Homo sapiens: one gene and its partner. The protein of the gene in region 2 purifies or fractionates together with the protein of the main gene of each other region. This does not show direct contact. Each region holds a gene or a part of one and is shown on either strand. Other genes may lie near its edges.

Region 1 (3,500 bases), on a different chromosome or scaffold from region 2:
TAGACAAAAAAGATTTGTCCATCGTCCTGCCATCCAGAGGCAATCACTATTAACATTTGTTGAACTGCATTCTAGTCTTTTTCTTTTTTACAACACCGTGACTGTTCTGTTCATGTAAATGCTGTACCCTGATGCATTCCTCCCGCGCACAGAGTAGGCCAGTTGATTTGATGCAATAATGGGCTTGGTCACTATATACTTATATATGCGACTGGCGGATCCACAGTTTAGACAGCTCCATCACACTGGAAAGCTCAATTCTTTTTCTTTTAGAGACAGGGTCTCGCCATCTTGCCCAGGCTGGTCTTGAACTCCTGAGCTCAACCAATCTGCCTGCCTTAGCCTCCCCAAGTGCTGGGATTACAGGGATGAGCCACCACGCCTGGCCAAAACTCAATTCTTCTTTTTTCTTTCTTGCTCTGTTGCCCTGGCTGGAGTGCAATGGCGCGACCTTGGCTCACTGCAACCTCCGCTTCCAGGTTCAAGTGATTCTCTTGCCTCAGCCTCCCGAGTAGCTGGGACTACAGGTGTGCGCCACCATACTTGGCTAATTTTTGTATTTTTTAGTAGAGACAGGGTTTCACCATGTTGACCAGGTTGGTCTGGAACTCCTGACCTCAGGTGATCCACCCGCCTTGGCCTCCCAAAGTGCTGGGATTACAGGCACGAGCCACCATGCCCGGCCAAAAGCTCAGTCCTTTAATCAAAGTGTCTAATAAGTTTCACTAACTGTTCTTGGGATATTAAAAAACAATGAGCTTGACCTGTGTGGCCATCACGGCCCTCTGCGAAGCACAACCGCCAAAAGCCCTGGCCGTGGGTGGAACAGAACCCCTGGGCCCCATCCTGGCTGGACCGCGGGGGAGTTTCAGAATCTTGGGTAAGCCATGCCATCTTTCTGGGTCTCAGTTTCCTCGCTTGTAAGCTGTGAAGATGGACTGGAGCATGGCTACGTCCCTTCCAGCCTAAGGTTCCGTGCAGGAAAGGCCTGAGGCTGCCATCCTTGGAAAGACCTGCCTGCAAAGGTGGTGGCTGGCACCAGGGAGCTGGGATTTGGGGAGGGTTCCTGCCATTCCTTGATAAGAGCGGCTCACACTGCCTACACTGTCTAAATAAGGAGGTTTACGCTGAATACCCGCTTTCCTGCTGGAAGTCTGGAATTTAGGCACGTGCTGGGCAGAGGCGGGAGACCTGAACAGCCCCTAATACAAGCCTGGACACCGAGACTTTAATGAGCTTCCCTGGTAGGCAGCATGTTACAAGTGTTGTCACCACTCACTGCTGGAGGAATTAAGCCCATCCCGTGTGACTCTACCGGGAGAGGACTCTTGGAAGCTGGTGCCGGCTTCCTCCAAACGTCAACTCACACACCCTTCCCTTTGCTGATTCTGCCTTATGTCTTTTCGCTGTAATCACAGCGGTGAGAGAGCAGATTGCGGAGTCCTGAGTCCACCTGGGGCTGGTCTTGGGAGCCCTGATACGGGCTTTGTGACTCAACGCCTATGACCAGGAACCAAGAGTCCTCAGTGGGAAGACACCCTGTGCTTCACTGACTCATTTCGTGAACTGCTATTGAAACAGATGACATTACATATCCTACATCTCAAGTACTAAGCAAAATAACCATTTGTTACGATGATGACTCAAACATATTTCTGTCCAGCTCCATGAGCCCTCTGGTTGATTGTAAATAGAGCAGGAAGAGAATATGGACTGGGGGAAGGTTTTGTGAGCCCCGCTCGTTGGGTTAGGAGTTGACCTTTCTTTTGGTTTCTCAAAGTGGTGACACCAAGAACAGTCCCCTTTAGGAGCAGGTGTCACCAAGGTCTAACATCCCCATTATGTGCAGGGGGTGTTTCCAGTCTCTGTGGTGGAAATGGGAGACTGTATCTGGGCTTCTCAATCAGTTATCGCTTGTACAGCTCACTCTAATCTGCGGGAGCCGGAGCCAGCAGCACAGCTGACTCGAGACGGGCGCAGGCCAGGCCCCTCCAGGCAGAGGAGGGACAGCAGCACATGGGCTAGTGCCAGAGGGAGAGGAAGGCAGAGCACAGCGTTTGCTTTCCACCTTTGCTTCCAAGGAAGAAAAGCCATCACACACAGCATGTGCACTCAGAAACCAAGGGGGCTGCCTCGCAACAGAAGGCATCTGTAAGAAACAGGTACGAGGACAGCTTCCCAGCTAGAATGTGTGTTTCCTATTTTAATACCAAAGGAACAAAGGAGCCGATCCTATTCCTAAATTCAAATAGCAAAGATCCACTTCAAAAAGAAGAATTTCTTTTTCTTTTCTTTTTTTTTTTTTGAGATGGAGTCTTGCTCTGTCCCCCAGGCTGGAGTGCAGTGGTGCGATCTAGGCTCACTGCAACCTCTGCCTCCCGGGTTCTAGCAATTCTCCTGCCTCAGCCTCCCGAGTAGCTGGGATTACAGGTGCCCGCCACCACGTCCAGCTAATTTTTGTATTTTTAGTAGAGATGGGGTTTCACAAACATGTTGGTCAGGCTGGTCTCGAACTCCTGACCTCAGGTGATCCACCTGCCTCAGCCTCCCAAAGTGTTGGGATTACAGGCGTGAGCCACCACACCTGGCTCAAAAAGAGGCATTTCATGTGACTAAATGCAGGAGTTAATTTATAAGTCATAAATGGAAGTTAGAGTAAAATACAGTGTAATCCGTTATCATGGAGAAGAGGGATTGAAAAACTGAAAAAAATAGAAAGCAAACATCACTTGCAGTCCTAACCAGCCAAACGTGGCTTCGGTTGACACTTTGGTATATTTCAGTGCCATTTAAAATCTGCCCCTAGGGAGGTGGTCAGGTCGGGGGAGAGGGGGTCAGCAGCGGTGGGGTTGGAGGGCTTCTGGGGTAGTGGTAATGCTCTACTTCTTGGTCTGGGTGGTAGTTAAATGGGTGTGTTCTCTGGTGAAAATGCACTGAGCTGTCCTTTTATGATCAGGTACTCTTCTGTGCATACTGACATACACATCAATAAAAGGTTAAAAAAAGATGCTAGGTGCTTTACTTTTAAGTACTAAAGCTGTAATCATCACTCATTCATTATATCCTAAGTATAAATCTTGTACATATTTTTACTATATATAAATACCTAGTTGTACCTATAGTACATATATAGTTTCACCTAGTAAATGAAAATCTTAAATGTTTTCCATATTTACTGCATTTTAACAGTTGTATTATTTGAGTAAATGTATAATCAGTTAATTTATTTATTATTGACAACTACAGTTGCTAATGAATCTTTTTTTTATTTTATTTTATTTTTTGAGACAGAGTCTCACTCTGTCGCCCAGGCTGGAGTGCAGTGGCCGATCTTGGCTCACTGCAACCTCCGCTTCCCAGGTTCAAGCAATTCTCCTGCCTCAGCCTCCCAAGTGGCTAGGATTACAGGTGCCCACCACCACCCCAGCTAATTTTTGTATTTTTAGTAGAGACGGGGTTTTGCCATGTTGGCCAGGCTGGTCTTGAACTCCTGATCTCAG
Region 2 (2,262 bases):
CAGCCGGGGACAGGTCTGTCAGTGGCTGCTGGCTCTCCTCCTGCCTCAGGGCACCTTGCTGCCCTGAGGGTCTGCGTCGCTTCTGGCTGCGGTCCCAGCTGGGGTACCAGAGGAAAAGAGGTTCTCTTGCACACTCAAGTAGCCCCCATCCTGGGCCTGCACCAGTGGTCACCCCCAGCCTCGCCCAGTCACTCCCAACATCTTATAGCAGAGAAACTGGCCTTTAACAGTTCTCTCTACTAAATCCCCTGGGACTCTGTGCCCATAAAGCCACTTCCCCTGCCCTCTAGGGGAGCTTGGTAATCTAAACCTCCTTACCCTCCAAACCTGATCCAGATCGACAAAATTAATATCCCCTCCCCACCACCACAATGTCCTCTCCCCTACATGCCCAGAAGAGTCATTTCTGTCTTCAGCAGACAACTGGCAGGTTTAGTTCTAGTTCAAAGCAAGCTGATGACTTGGACACCTGAGTCTAATGATTCTCTCAGTAAAGTGTGAAGGACTGAGTGATCCATTATTAAATGTGTGCAAAGAAAGCTCCAGGTTTTCTTGCTCCCCCCAGGCAACCCTAAGAAGGGCTCTGCAGACTGGGTCAGCTTTCTCTGTCTTGGAGGAAGTAGGGGCAGGGGAGGCTCACCAGGAATGCACAGGAATAATTCCCCTGCCCTCCCTTATCCTTGTATTTCCCTGGGAGACAGAATCTGCCCTGATTTCTCACCGTCTTCCCCCAGCCAAATCCTTAATTATCTTTTCCCAAGGTCTTGCCTTCATCCAGCATTTCCCACCCACCCCCCAGCAAAATTGCTGCCACTGCCCCTCGTGGTTAGAGCCTCGACTGCCAAACATTCCGTCCCCATCCACCAGCACCTTCCTCCTCCCAGCTTACCAGAACTTGAAGATGATGCCAGTGGCCACGAGAACAATGATGATGGAGATGGTAATTGTGACATAGAGCTGGGGGTCCACACCTGATTGGGGTGGGAAGAAAGTTTTAGGGAGCCCCGAGGTGGTAGGAGCCAAGAGGGGCTGGGGGCTGGGCTGTGGGCTCTGTCGGCTGGAGTGGCATTGCTGTGTGGATCCACACTGCCGGCTCTGTCTGCCCCTCTGGAGCCTCACTCTTTATTATCACCAGCATTCCCCTGAGTTTTCAGCTCTTTTCCTCCACTTTCCCAAATGTATTTCACCAAATCTTATGTGTATATGTGATGAGGATGAGGCCCCATGATCAGCGAGAACCTATCACTATGCCTGGAAACTAAGGGGTGGAGATGTCCTAGTCTCTGCCATGGCCCAACTCCCAAACCACAGGCCCTGTTCCTCCATCAGCACTCCCTGAGCCAAGACATCTCCCGGGTAGTGCCCTTCATTCATGGCATTCTCTGCCCAGAATACTCCCACTCTCTTTTCAAGGGCCAGCTCAAATGTCAGTTCTCTGAAGGTGTCCTGATCCCCAAGCAGGAGGAGACTCTCACTTCTCTTTTTTTGTAAATCATGCTGCACATGCCTCTATTAAAGCATTTATTACGATGACTCCTCTCCAAGTCCTTTCATGTCTGTCTGCTCCAGTGGACCTGAACTCCGAGAGGGTGTCTTTATCTCTGCATCCTGTGCCAGTATAGTGCCTGACACATTTGTTGAAGGAGCTAACAGACAAGGCCTCTATTTCTGCCCCTTGGTGTCTTCACCCAGCCTCCCCATCCGTCATATCCCTCCCAGCCTTTCCCACTCACCTTCCCCACGGCCCCCGAACAGGAATGGCCGCAGGGTGGCAGGTGCCTCTCCAAGGATAAGCCCATCTCCATCACCTCGCATGGAGTCTGAGTTGGGGTGTGGGGTTGCGAGCCCATGAGGGGCTGCAAAACCATAGTCCAGAAATCCGGGATTGGCAGAGTTGGGGTCCCCTCCATCCTCTCGAGACACGGTGGGACCCCACACGATAGCCCAGGGGTATTGGGATGAGGGCGGCCCCTCCTCAAAGCCTGATGGGGTGGCTGGGGGTGCAGTGCCAGGCAGGACTTGCCGACGTGATCTTGGGACCCGAGGAGATCGGCTTGGTGGAGGTGCTCGCTCCCACACGCACACATGACGTGGGGCCGAGGGGCCTCCCCTGGCACACGGGGGGCGGGCTGGGGCTGGTGGGGTTCGAGGGGAGGATGAAGAGCCCTGAGCAGGCGGTGGGAGGGGCAGCAACAGCAGTGGCCAGAGAGGGAGGAGGTGGGACAGCAGCAGCGCAGGCCTGCAAGAAGGGAGAGAGCGTGG

What was found.
Region 1: the proteins of PIANP (region 2) and ADCY9 purify together in Homo sapiens (affinity purification with mass spectrometry; 2 studies listed by BioGRID and IntAct, with this or other methods). This does not show direct contact.

The regions. Positions count from the first base shown.
Region 1 is NC_000016.10:3,969,943-3,973,442, forward strand, and holds part of ADCY9 (adenylate cyclase type 9), read right to left. Parts: intron 1-3,500. UniProt on the Homo sapiens protein: Adenylyl cyclase that catalyzes the formation of the signaling molecule cAMP in response to activation of G protein-coupled receptors.
Region 2 is NC_000012.12:6,695,554-6,697,815, forward strand, and holds part of PIANP (PILR alpha-associated neural protein isoform b precursor), read right to left. Parts: intron 2,240-2,262; coding exon 1,734-2,239; intron 972-1,733; coding exon 890-971; intron 99-889; coding exon 1-98. UniProt on the Homo sapiens protein: Acts as a ligand for PILRA in neural tissues, where it may be involved in immune regulation.